Homo sapiens: one gene and its partners. The protein of the gene in region 2 purifies or fractionates together with the protein of the main gene of each other region. This does not show direct contact. Each region holds a gene or a part of one and is shown on either strand. Other genes may lie near its edges.

Region 1 (3,500 bases), on a different chromosome or scaffold from region 2:
TACAGCCATGGGAAGGTCTTCAGTCCCCCTGGAACCCTGATGGCAAACCACAGAGGGAAGGCACACAGTGAAGTCACTGTGCTATCTGATACCATTGGGACATGCAGCCCCATGTTTCCCCTGGTGTTGTGAAATGTGCCCATTAAAGCTTTTGCAAAGCATATTACCCTCGTGGTCACATGCAGACCAAATAACAAAGCGGAAGAAAAGTGAAGCTGTTGCGGCAGTTCTGCATCCATGTGTGCTTCTGAACAGAGGAATCGTCTGCACCTTTGGCCTTGGGCTCACAGTGCGTTCTTTAGGCTGCTGCCATTGGCACTTCCTGTTGTTTTGATTCATTCATTACCAGCAAATACCATTTTTAGGCACCCTTGACAGCGACAGACACAGCCATCCTCTCTGGAAGCCTCTCAACCCAGAATGGAAATGGAGGAGGTTCCATTAACTTTGCGCTCAGACGAGTAACTTCGGCAAAGGGATGGGGAGAGGTAAGAATGTCTATTGGCTGAGTTGTGTTGTCTGTGCAAAGCCTTATTTCTGAACATTTACACTCTCAAAGCTCACCCTCAAACTCACCCTGGGGGCCCCGTTGTTGTGTAAGAACGGTACCAAGTGTCAAGCTTCCATAAGTTGACTGGTCCTAAAAGAAAAATAGGTCTCATGAGCCTGGCCAACATGGTGAAACCCCGTCTCTACTAAAAATACAAAACTTAGCTGGGCATGGTGGCACCTGCCTGTAATCCCAGCTACTTGGGAGGCTGAGGCAGGAGAATCACGAGAATCACATGAACCCAGGAGGCAGAGGTTGCAGCGAGTCAAGATCGCGCCGTTGCACTCCAGTCTGGGGGACAAGAGCAAAATTCCGTCTCAAAAATAAATAAATAAATAGGTCTCATATCTGAGAAGTCCTGTCAGTCTTCCTCACAGTTTAAAATTGGCATAGAAAAACAAGGTTTCCTATGAGATGCCAACTTCTAGAAATCCAGCCTCTGAAACTCCGTGTGTTTGTTCCCTTTGAGCAAAAAGCCTGTGGGCTCTTTTTCCTGCACAATTCAGAAGGCAGGTGCTCTCTTCCGCGTGATGGTTCACTGATTGGTGGCCATTTAACAGCCAGTTCTGCCGAGCAAATTGAGCTGCATCAAATTAACATTGAAGAGTTGCTTGAAAGTCACCCAGACTAGTAAACACGGCAGCCAGGCTCAGCTGTGACTTCCAAGGCTGTGCGGGTGTGGAACCGCGGCTGGGCTTTAACATCAGGCTCCTGAGGACCGCCCCAGTGACCTGGGAGACATTTGGCGCAGGATGAAAATGAAAAGGAGTCGGCAGTGCATGCGGGGGTGGGGGGCACACCGGACCGCAGTCGGTGCTCTGCAGGTGGCGGGGGGCTGCGCCGGGAGGGGTAGGGGGAGCCAGCTGGTCTCCTGACCTCAGCCTGGGAGGCAAGGAACAGAGGGGAGCAGTTTTTTCTTTGGAGGGACACCAATGAAACATGTGCCTTTGAAGCCTGGGTCTCCTTTGGATCTGTGGCAGCAGACAGCTCCATTTGGCAAAGGTTAAGATGAGACATTAACAATCTTCCACCCCCTTCTTTTAGAGCCCTGGCAAGACCAGTGAATTGAATGAAGGAATTATACCTAGAGGTACATACCTGAGCCTGGGTTGCTGCTATGAGATAAAACACCATTAATGCCTTCTCTTTTTCCTTTTCAAACAGTTGGAATTTGGAGCTGGAGACCTACAGGGGCCTTTGTTCGGTCTCAAGCTGTTCCGTAATCTCACACCAAGATGGTAAATATGAGAGACAGCAGCTCCTCTTTGGTGGTCTTTGTTGGCTTAGGAGACTAGAACTGTGTGTTCTTTTTATCACAGTGGTTGGCACTATCTTGTCTGTCCTACAAGGTCACTGCGTACATCAAGGGCAGGTATAGCACTGGCGTGAAGCCCAGGCAGTGTGCAGGTGGGAAGAGGCAGGATTGAGGGGGCCGGACCCTTGTCCCAGCCCTGGCCAGGCTGCACCATCCAGGTCTCGCACCTCCCTTACCTATGCCACAAGGCCACGGAGAAAGAGTGCCTTCAGGGAGAGTTGGTCAGTGGACCGAAACACTTACAGACTTATGGATCGTTCCATTGTCCCAGAGAATGACAGACTGCCTCATCATCGGGTTGATTGACATATGCCAGAGATGTAGTCCCCAGCCAGCCTCTGCTTCCTGTCGTCTCTGCTGCTGCCATGTCACACTCCTAGAACTGTATATCCCTGTCCCTTCTAGAACGACAGCAGTGTCTTCATTTCCTATATGGTGGGTGCAGTGATGTCTGTGTGAGCTCAGATAAAAGAATTGGTGGAGGGTAAATAATACCTCTTTCTTCCAGAGGAAGATATAGCTGAAGGAGTCCTAGAATGGAGCACATGGAGTTTATTTTATTTATTTATTTATTTTGGAGACAGGGTCTTGCTCTGTCTTGCCCAGCCTGGAGTGCGGTGGTGTGATCTCGGCTCACTGCAGCCTCTGCCTCCTGGGTTCAAGCTATTCTCCTGTCTCAACCTTCCGAGTAGCTGGGACTACAGGCGTGTGCCACCACACCCAGCTATTTTTGTATTTTTAATAGAGATGGGGTTTCACCATGTTGGTCAGGCTGGTCTCGAACTCCTGACCTCAGGTGATCCACCTGCCTCGGCCTCCCAAAGTGGTGAGATTACAGGCGTGAGCCACCACGCCTGGCCTATTTTATTTTACTTTATTTTTGTTAGAGACGAGGTTTTGTTCTGTTGCCTAGGCTAGAGTGCAATAGTCCGATCATAGTCCACTGCAGCCTTGAACTCCTGGGGTCAAGCAGTCCTCCTCCCTCAGCCTCCCGAAAAACTAGGACTACAGGCGTGTGCCAACATGCCTGGCTCATTGTTTAGTTTTTTTTAGGGATAAGTTATCTCTATGTTGCCTAGGCTGGTCTCAAGCTCCTGGATTCAAGCAGTCCTCCCACCTTGGCCTCCCAAAGCACTGAGATTAGAAGCATGAGCCACTTCAGCAAGCCTGGAGTATATGTTTTTTGTTTTGAGACAGGTCTCACTTTGTCACCCCGGCTGGAGAATAGTGATGCAATCTTGGCTCACTGCACCCTCAACCTCCCAGGCTCAGGTGACCCTCCTGAGTAGCTGGGACTACAGGTGTGCACCACCATGCCTGACTAATTTTTGTAGAGTTGGGGTTTCTCCTTGTTGGCCAGGCTGGTCTCTTAACTCCTGACCTCAGGTGATCCTCCCACCTTGGCCTCCCAAAGTGCTGGCATTACAGGTGTGAGCCACTGTGCCCAGGCACAGTGGCATGAATAACTTTCTTATCAAACATGTATTGTAGGCTGTACAAACATGTACAAACATGTACAGGAGTTCGAGACCAGCCTGGCCAACATGGCGAAACCCCCTCTACTAAAAATATAAAAATTAACCAGGCATGGTGGCGCTTGCCTGTAGTCCCAGCTACTTGGGAGGCTGAGGTGGG
Region 2 (3,500 bases):
AACAGCTCATTCTATTCTAGCAAGTCAATAAGGAAACGCCTAGAATTAACTGATTCTTATTTGCCAAAGGCAAAATATTCCAACCCAATGAACAACAAATGATCAAGCTGGTTCTCATTTTCTCTTCATTTTAAAAAAATTTTTCCATGTTTTTGAAAAATAATCAGTAAATAAGAAACAATTGCACCCAGGTGTTTAAACATTCTGTTGACAAAATGGTCTTCAGAAATGGAAAGGCTTAATTGTTTGTTAGAGATTATACAACATATTATTATGTCAATATTTTATAACAATCACATAACTGAACTCTCTCACTTTAGAGAGAAATTGATGCTGGGAACACTCACCTGAGTTGATGTCAGAGGAATATGACTTGAGTCTTCTCTCTCTCAGGCAATTATAGAACCCACTCTGCATTTTTTAACATCATGCATCATTTCATTAGTCATGAAAACTTGTTTAGTCTATGAGTTTATCAAAGATTCAGGTTTATCTTTTCTCAAAGATTCAGGGAGTAGGAAAGAGTATGTGTTTGGATTTCAGATTATTTCCCTTTGTACCTCCAGGTGAAAGAACTACTGGTCAAGGATGGTCAGCAGGTAGAAATTTCAGGGGTGGAACTATAAGCCATAGAAAAAGATTCAAAACCTCAGCATCATCCATGTTGCAAGAACTTAGGCAAGGATTTAACTCTTCTTACTTTTTAATCTTCATCCCTAAAAGAAGTTATTTAGATTAAATAGTGTACAATATCCTGCAAGCCATAACATTCTATGGTTCGATGAAATAGGGCCAAGAGCTTGAATAATCCATTATTTGCCTCCTTAAGACCGAAGAATTAAACATAAATCAAGATTCTTATTTTTACATCATTATTTATCAGAAGTTCTGAATTTCATGCTAGTACCTTACCTGGAAACAATAATGATAATGATAGCTAATACTTATATACAATTACTATGACTTTATAAGGTTGGTAATGCTATCATCGCCATTTTACAGATGAGAAACCTGGATACTAAAGTAGTTAAATTACCTGCCCAATTTGACACAGGTAACAAGTTTGTGCTACCATGCTACACCGCCTCTATAAAAACCACAAATCTGACAGATAGATAGCTGATGTGTGCCATTTATAGCCACTTGACACACCAGCCAATTCTCTGGAGAATTTCTATTTTAGCTCAATTTTTTACTAGAAGAGCAACCAAGATGGTGAATAGAACTTCAGTCCTGTGTGTGGGAATCTACATTGTCTTTCTGTAAGATGGCTCTTGTGCTTTTGCAATTGATGTCATTGACCAATTGTTTACGTGATTCAGCATTGAATGTTGGTGCTGTGCAGGTGGCTGCATGTGGTGAGGACCACTCTTCTGCCTCTTCCCAGAATGTGTGGCCAGCCACACCACCAGAAATAGATGGATGCTGGTGCAGGATCAATCCAGCACCTTCTAATGCTATAAAGGTCAGCCCACCACATCTTTACTGTTCAGTAGAGTCTTCTAGCTTCTGCCTTTAGGTTTTTGACTCAGTGTAACAATCTAGACAGCTTTTACAGTAGAGAGGGAGAGCTCCCAGAGTGTCATTTCCTGGAGGTAGGCTTGGGTCAAGGCTAAGACTAAAACTTTCAAAATCATGTTGTGAAAATCGTTTTCTTCTCATTAATCCTATGTTAACAAATTAGTCATAAATACAATACACCACAGTACCCATCTGTTTCACTGTGTATTTCAATGTACTGAATATACAAATGGGCATTTAGCTCTTAATATGGTATATCTAACCAGCTGAGAATGCTCTGACAGTAGTCAAATATACATGTTTATTCTTTAGCTCTAGTTTCTGGCTTGTTAAACTAGCTACATATCCCATCAACACCAAGGCCAATTACGGAATACATAACTCTACTTCTTCCTCTGTGGTTTTCTTTTTTTTTTTTTTTTTTTTTTTTGAGACGGAGTCTCGCTCTGTCGCCCAGGCCGGACTGCGGACTGCAGTGGCGCAATCTCGGCTCACTGCAAGCTCTGCTTCCCGGGTTCACGCCATTCTCCTGCCTCAGCCTCCCGAGTAGCTGGGACTACAGGCGCCCGCCACCGCGCCCGGCTAAGTTTTTGTATTTTTAGTAGAGACGGGGTTTCACCTTGTTAGCCAGGATGGTCTCGATCTCCTGACCTCATGATCCACCCGCCTCGGCCTCCCAAAGTGCTGGGATTACAGGCGTGAGCCACCGCGCCCGGCCTCCTCTGTGGTTTTCTAGATACTCTGTGGGGAGCGGGATGGCCTAGGAGTCAGAAGATCTGCTTTCCAGACTCAGCTTTGAAATGTACTACCTGTGACACTTGGGCCAGCACCATTCACTACTTCAAGACTGAACTTCCTTACCTTTAAAATAGGGGTAATAGATCTTGCCCCTCACATTACAAATAGGGCCAGTGAGATGGCATTAATTAAAGCTCCTTGTTAACCATAGAGTTAGTCCAGAGGAAAGAGATGGGTTTTCCATCCTTTCAGTCTTTCCCAGCCAGAAATTACTCTCAAGCTGTTGATACCCAATTCTGAACCAGGGTTGACAGCTAAATCAATGTCTTCAAGGTTAAGAAGAGCTTGGATTTAAATTTGTAAATCTAGAAAATGGCACTTACAATAGGAGAGGCCTCCTGGTTTCTTCCAAATTAATGGTCCTCAACCTGAGGCAATGTCACCTCAATAAGGGGTATTTTATATTGTCACAGATACTGGAGGAGAGGGGAGTTACTACTGACTTTTGGTGGACTGGGATCTAGAATGTTAAATATCCTGCATTAGACAGAAAAATCCTGCAGAATAAAAAATGTCCTGTCCAAAATGCCAATAGCACTCCACCCCCACTGAAAAATACCGCTCTAAGTAATGTGCTGTTCCTGGTCCCTAATTCTCCAATTGATGCAGACAGAGAGCGTTTACTTTTCATCTCCACCCACAGGTGAAATCCAGCCATGCTCATGTGAGGTCTGTAGTAGTTATTGTTCAGAAGTATGACCAGACTTCCAGTAAGTTTACCAATAAGTAAAACAATGGGGTCAGAGATCAGTGGTTTTAAAATTAGCCCCCAGAAGCTCCTACAAAAAGCCTCCTCCAACCTCTGCAGGGGCAAAGATTCCCAGCAGGTTAATATGCCTATAATGTGAGAGCTGGCCTAAAGGTTGGCATTTAGGGATGCAAAATCAGTAAATCATGATTCTAAAATGACTATCTTTGCAATTTATTGAAGAAACATTGTAATATTCACTTGTTTTATGACAAGCATGGGCCTAGCTAGGCACTGGATATGAGACATAATCCCTGCCTCAAGTCACCAGTAATCTGAAAGTTCCACAGATGTAATCCCCACTAATTATGTATGCAACATGACACATGCTATAACATATTATGAGGGAGCCTCCAAGGAGAGACCAGGAAACAATTCACTTCCACAGAGGAAATTATAATTGAACAGTATCTTGAATGGTATATAATATTTT
Region 3 (3,500 bases), on a different chromosome or scaffold from region 2:
AATTAATCTTTCCTATCTGGTTTCAACAAACATTAGCCAAAGCACAGCCATCCTAGAACTCTCTCAGTACTGGGTCCTTGAGCCACATAAGTTTTCGTGTCTATAAATGCTTTTGAAATTAGAACCAAAATATAACAAAGAAATCAACCAGGTGAAAAAAAAAAAACTAACTAAAGAAAATACGTAAATATAAACATTTACATTTAGATGAGAAATCCCTCCAAATTGAATTTTTTTTCTTAGAGACATTTCACTCTAATTACTCAATAATTAGTCAATATAATTACTCAATAATTTTATGAAATTGATGAGTCCTGATGCCAACAATATCAGAATACAAAAGAGCTAACAATCAATGCACCCAGAAAATTAAAACTAATCAAAACATTTTTTATTAAGCAAAGGAAACCAAGAGGCAAGAAAATGATTTGAGGATCATGGCTGTAAAATGTCCCTTTCTTGACATTTGGAGGAAAGGCAGCAGTCAAGAACAAGGGGAAGGGAAAGAAATTATCAACGCATCACTTACTTCTTTGTATCCAAAGATGATTCGTCCATCCATGAGCAGGGTTGCCTGGAATGTGAAGCTTCCCAGGTTATAATTATCCTGGAGATGTACATGGTCCCACTGGACCACAAGTGCTGTGCCTATACACCCATTGAAAAAAGAAGAAATGCAATGAGAAAAACATACCAATCAATTCTGGTGGGAGTTTTCACAAAAATGTTTTTGCATCTGGCCTTCAAATCTGGTAGTTGTACTATTTCGATTTTATGTGGTTAATCAAATTCTGTTATTGAAATAGCATTTGGGATTTTTTTTAAAGGATTGAGTACTCTCTAAATATTTAGTAAAATAGAACCTCATACTAAGGTCAATAATTGAGCTAATGCAGTGTGGGGGAATTTTGCCTTAGGAATTTTATTAATGTTAATAGATACTGTCTGCTTAAATTTCCATAAGCCACTTTCAAAATGCAGCCCAAGTGGATTGAATGAACTTCAAATACATTTGACAAATGCTGAGAGAGAAACACATCTAAAAAGTTAGGACCACATACAAAAGACCTGAAAATGTCTTTTCCATACTTAAAATTATACTTTTCCACATTGAAGGAGTTCCTTTAACACTAATGGGAATTTTCTCCTTGAGTTCACAATGCTTGTATTTCTGTCTTTGTTGTGTTTCTTCCAGGAAGCTGTAAGAAGCTCAAAGGGCCCTGGACTAAGATTTTTGAAGTCCCCTTGAAGCACACTGGGATGAAACTTCAGTGCTGTATATTATATTCTGAATCACTCTGTCAGTGTTTACCATAAACGATTGGGCATGAAATAAAAACTGAAACATAGTTTAATAGTCACCAGTGAGAATTCAAATTTTTGTTTTAACTGACATTGTGTACTCTCTTTTTTTAAAAAAAAAGAAAAGAAATGAGCTGCTAAGACTTTTTCTTCACTCTAAATATTAGATTTTTCTGTTTGGTTAGAAAAACTGTTGCCCAAAAAAGTTGTGCTGAAAATGAAAATCATAGAACTAAAAGAGCAAATCTTATCTCCCAGTAATAAATATCTGATATATTTAAAAATTACAATTGCATGGAAGAATTAATTTTCAGTAACTATTTGGTGCTATTAGTAATATCTCTTGAGCTGGTTGACAATTTTAAATAGACACATTATTTCAAATATTTTGAACACCCAATTGTAAGTCCTGAAAGGATGTTGAAGTAAAGAAATGTATTTCTTTTGAGGCAAAACTTTAAAAGTAAAAAAGAAAAAAAAGTTTTTTAACTTGACCTTGGTGCTTTTAGCCATTATCACTGCTGTGAGTGAAGACCACTCAGGTCTCTTCCTTCCACGGGCATCTCCGTGTCTATATTGTCCTGAGGGAGGGAGGGAGGGAGGGAGGGAGGAAGGAAGGAAGGAAGGAAGGAAGGAAGGAAAAAGAAAAGAAAAGAAAGAAAGGAAGGAAGGAAGGAAGAAAGGAAGAAAGAAAGAAAAAGAAAGAAAGAAAGAAAAGGAAGCAAGGAAGCAAGGAAGAAAGAAAGGAGGGAGGGAGGAAGGAAGGAGAAAAGAAAAGAAAGAAGGAAGAGAAAAGAAAAGAAGAGAAAACAAAAAAAATAGAGCAAAAGAAGACAGTAGCCAGGAAACCTCCCATGATTTTATAAGTATAGGAATTTTCTGATTGTGAAATGCCTCCTAACTTCTTTTTCCTTCACACATGTCTACAACCCTCAAGCTCTAGTCTATTCCTTATTTTCTAGTTTCTATCGCACTCTGGTGATGCAGTGAAAACAATGAACCAGAGGGCAGAAGACTTAGACTTGCATCTTGTCTCTATAAAACTTTCCATGTGAACTTGGACACAATTAATCTGCATGAACCCGTTTCCTTTCCTATAACATGGGGAGTATAGTTTTTGCCTTCAAGACATTCCTGCATTAAATACAAGAAAATATACTTACGCTTGATTATTTATGAAAATAAGAGGGCTATATAAATTAAAGTTTTTAATGCCAATTCTGAGGAAGGGATTCCTAATATTTTGTTAGTAGCAGGTTGTTAAAAACCACACTGTTGACCAGGTGCGGTGGCTCACAACTGTAATCCCAGCACTTTGAGAGGCCGAGGCAGGCGGATCACGAGGTCAGGAGATCCAGACCATCCTGGCTAACACGGTGAAACCCCATCTCTACTAAAAAAAATATTAAAAAATTAGCCGGGCGTGGTGGTGGGCGCCTGTAGTCCCAGCTACTCGGGAGGTTGAGGCAGGAGAATGGCATGAACCCGGGAAGCGGAGGTTGTAGTGAGCAGAGATCATGCCAGTGCAGTCCAGCCTGGGCGACAGAGTGAGACTCCATCTCAAAACACAAAAAACAAAAAAAAGTGTACTGTTTGCACATGTTAAGTTTTATATTATGTAATAGCATAGCTCTCTCAACATTTGCTGATTTAAATTTTCTAACCTGCTGCTGTCTTTTCCAGAGAAGTTTGCTTTCCTAAATTGTTGAGTTTCCAATCTTTAAGTATCCTGTCAATGATTCTAACTAAACTTGAAAATATTTCAGCAAGTTGTTGTGGTATTAAAAGGGCTTCGTGAAGAGTCTTACAGTGTTTAAAAGTGTTTCATTCATTTAATAAAACGTAAGTTTTCATTATCATATTGTTTGAACTCAATATTCCTCAATATTTGATTCCTATGGAATAAGTCATTACACAGAAGATATTTCAGTGGGTAAACAATACATGCATTCTTGAGTATTAATACTTTTACAATTCTCAGACATAAAACTCACTTTACGTATGTAATTATTTTTATTCATTCATTGAATAATTATTTAGGACCTACGTCCTAAATAATAAAGTGTCTATGCAGGGTACTGGAGATAAAATGATTTCTTATAGCCACAGTCCTTGTTTTTAAAGAACTTAAGAGTTCAGTTGGAGTAGTATACATCAATTTTTAAAAATCATTCAAATACGAGTAAAATTCAAATATT
Region 4 (3,500 bases), on a different chromosome or scaffold from region 2:
ACTCTGTACAATTCTGAAAGTATCAAGTCTCATTTTTAATAAGAAGCTATACGCCTTCCATTTTATTTGCAAAGCTATTTGAAATTGCATTTTGCTTCTGCTTTCTTTTTGGATCCTCTATAATCTTGCCAGAATTTGTGTTTACTTGGATGTAAATGAATTCTCCAGCTACTTGTGTGTGTGTGTGTGTGTGTAGTTTAAGTCTTTTTTTTTTTTTCAACTTTTATTTTATTTTAGATTTGGTACTTGTGCCGGGTATATTGTGGGAGCTCAGGTTTGGGGTACAAATGATCCGGTCACCCAGGTACTGAGCATAGTACTCAATAATTAGTTTTTCAACCCTTCCCCCTTCTCCCCTCCCCTGCCCCCAAGTAGTCTCCAGTTTCTGTTTTTGCCATCTTTATGTTGGTGAGTACCCAATATTTAGCTCCCACTTAGAAGTGAGAACATGTGGTATTTGGTTTTCTGTTCTTGCATTAATTTGCTTAGGATGATGGCCTCTAGCTGCATCTATGTTGCTGCAAAGGACATAATTTTGTTCTGAAAGTCTTTTTAAGCTTTTCTTTTTCAATGTGAAAGGAGGCCACAATGAAATATTAAAGGTATATATCTGTTTCTCTTTTCTTCCATTCCCCTCCCCACCATATAAACTTAAAATTTTTGCTTGTTTTCTCTTCCATTTCATAGCAATCTTGGTGATTTTTTTTTTAATCATCCATTTCCACTATACATACCACCCTCAGTCCTAACTGCCCAACTTCTCTGTCTTCAGTCGTGGCTTCATAAGTCATATAAATATGGTCTCTAAACTCTGAATTTACATCTGTCTCCACCGGTAAATATTTATAATAGCCAAAGGATATCCTGGACATTTTCTCCTAATCTGTTTGACCCTTTCCTTTTCTGCTTGATCTAGATGCTTGGATCCAACTTACTTTCTTACACCCTCTTGTTCGTTTACCTTCATGTATATATAAGTCCACACTTGGATCACTGCTATAGTTTGTTTACTACTAATACAGAGGCCTGAAGGCTACTATAGAAAATCACATAGCTGTGTAGTTTGCCAACGCCAGGAGTTTAACCCTCAGCTCACTGAATTATTCCTTTTCTTGACCTTAATCAGCTACTTGTTTCATTCCCCTCAAAGTTTCTCCGAATCTTTGTCACTCTCCTCAAAGCTCCTTTTTCTAACTCACCTCTCTTACTCTTAGCAGATAACCTTGCCTCGTACTTACTCAACAAAAGTGAAGCCAAAAGGTATGATCTCCTACTATGAATACTTTCTGCATTTTAATCTAAAAGGTTATCTGTGTTCACAACCATTCTTACCTCCTTTCCTCCCATTTCAGAAAACGGGGTTCCCCTACTCCGGTTTAAAGCCATTCTACCTACCTTTGATCTTAGAGTAGCGTATTTTGAAGTGGTTAAAAGCACAGATTTTCTAAACAGACAGACTCAATAAGAGCTGAAAAAATAATATTTAAAAAAAAGCACAGATTTTGGAGTCAAACAAGCTTGAGTTCAATCTTGATTCTGACACTTACTATAAATTGATTAACTTCTCTAAACCTCATCTTTCTCCGTGAAAATAGGATAATCAAACCACTGTACTGAGTTTTTAATTATTTTTATAAGATTATAATGCTAAGTACTACTTAGAGAGCCTGTAGTATAGTAAATGCTCAATAAAAGTTACCTAATCATATTAATAATAGTATTATCAGTTTATCCTCTAGTATTCCACCATCCTTCTCATCTTTTTCTCCTTACTTGACTGCTTTCTTTCCCCTTGGCCAATAAACTTTCCCTTTATTCCACATTCTTCTCTAGCCTATTATCTAATGTTTTCTTTTTTTCTCATTCCTGGCTCTCCCTAGAGTAATTTGCATTTACTGTCCCCACTGCTTTAGCTCCCATTCATTCTGACCTGCTACACTCTGGTTCCTGCCTCTACCTCACTATTCAAAATTGTTTTCCTTATCCTCTAGTGTTTTCTTCTTGGCACATTGCTCTCCTTACTCTAGATACTATTCCCAGGTGATCTCATGTACTTTGGTGGTTTCAACTCATAGGTATATCTTAGACCTGCCTTCACAATCTGTCTTTTATTCCAGATACTTGCTGGATATCTTGATCCATCTTGCTGGCTGTCCCTCAGGCCCTTAGTGTGTTCAAAAATGAGCTCATCATTTTCCCCATCCTCTGCCCCCTTTCCTAAACCTCTTCTTTCTCCAGTATTCTTTATATAAATTGGGTAGCTTCACTCTTCATCCTGTATTCCAAACTAGTCATCCTTGACTTCTCCCTGTTGATTTTACCTTCTAAATAGTTCTCAAATCTGTTTTCTCCTCTTCTGTCACCAAATGTCTTAATTCAGGGCTTTATCATCTTTCATCTGAATTCCCATAACACATTTCTATAATGTTTCTCTTTCTACACTGTTGTTTCCTTCAAGTGTGTCTTCCATACAGCCACCATACCGCTCTATATAATATAAAACAAATCAGACCATGCCATTTCCCTGCTTAAATAACCCTCATCACCTACAGACTATAATCTAAGCTCCTTAGGGTGGCCTTCAAAGCTCTCAGTGATTGGACATCCACTCCTCCTGTCTAGCCTCATTTTTAACCTCTTCCTTCTTTGAATTTCATCTTCTAGCAGCACCAAACCATGTGTAGTTCCCGGCATATACCATGCTATTCACTCTGCGCCTTTACTCATGCCCTTTGCTATCTGGAAAGCCCTGTCCTCCTACCCCTACCACCTGTTTTTACCCTACCTGATTCGTTTTTTGTTTGTTTGTTTTGTTTTGAGACAGGGTTTCGCTCTGTCACCCAGGCTGGAATGCAGTGACATGCTCACAGCTCACTATAACGTCTACCTGCCAGGCTCAAGTGGCCCTTCCACTTCAGCCTCCCCATAAGCTGGAACTACAGGCACGCACCACCATACCTAGCTAATTTTTGTATTTTTTGTAGAGATGGGGTTTCACCACGTTGCCCAAGCTGGTCTCGAACTCCTGGGCTCAAGCGATCTACCCAAAGTGCTGGGATTACAGACGTGAGCCACCATGTCCAGCCTCCCTACTTGATTCTTATTCATCCTTTGAGAGGATGGTTTTTATGTTAGGGGTGGTGGAAACCTTTGACTGTGTGATGAATACCTTGAAACCACTCTAGAAAAATGCACATAACCCCAAAATGTGCATACAATATCAGGTTTTAACCCCAAATTAAAACTTCCTTCGGCTCGGGCATTATCTTCTCCAGAAAATCTGTCCTAACCCCTTACAGATTGGTTTGGTCTCCCTCTTTCATATTGTTTTACAATATCATGTATGTATTTCTATCATTGCACATCCATATTATGTTATAATTATTTATGTACTGTCTTCACTATATTGTGAGCTCCTAGAGGGTAGTAACCATCCTATTCATCTTTGTATCCTCAGCACTTAGCATAGCACGTAGGAGTTATTACAGAAAATTTAAGAT

Evidence for each region.
Region 1: the proteins of SLC7A14 (region 2) and DNAJC11 purify together in Homo sapiens (affinity purification with mass spectrometry; one large-scale study listed by BioGRID and IntAct). This does not show direct contact.
Region 3: the proteins of SLC7A14 (region 2) and PLXDC2 purify together in Homo sapiens (affinity purification with mass spectrometry; one large-scale study listed by BioGRID and IntAct). This does not show direct contact.
Region 4: the proteins of SLC7A14 (region 2) and GPR89A purify together in Homo sapiens (affinity purification with mass spectrometry, with the first as the bait; one large-scale study listed by BioGRID). This does not show direct contact.

The regions. Positions count from the first base shown.
Region 1 is NC_000001.11:6,649,817-6,653,316, reverse strand, and holds part of DNAJC11 (dnaJ homolog subfamily C member 11), read left to right. Parts: intron 1-365; coding exon 366-488; intron 489-1,714; coding exon 1,715-1,788; intron 1,789-3,500.
Region 2 is NC_000003.12:170,576,076-170,579,575, reverse strand, and holds part of SLC7A14 (solute carrier family 7 member 14), read left to right. Parts: intron 1-3,500. UniProt on the Homo sapiens protein: Imports 4-aminobutanoate (GABA) into lysosomes. May act as a GABA sensor that regulates mTORC2-dependent INS signaling and gluconeogenesis. The transport mechanism and substrate selectivity remain to be elucidated.
Region 3 is NC_000010.11:20,144,932-20,148,431, reverse strand, and holds part of PLXDC2 (plexin domain-containing protein 2 isoform 1 precursor), read right to left. Parts: intron 649-3,500; coding exon 530-648; intron 1-529. UniProt on the Homo sapiens protein: May play a role in tumor angiogenesis.
Region 4 is NC_000001.11:145,610,988-145,614,487, forward strand, and holds part of GPR89A (Golgi pH regulator A), read left to right. Parts: intron 1-1,214; exon of another isoform or gene 1,215-1,260; intron 1,261-3,500. UniProt on the Homo sapiens protein: Voltage-gated channel that enables the transfer of anions such as iodide, chloride, bromide and fluoride which may function in counter-ion conductance and participates in Golgi acidification.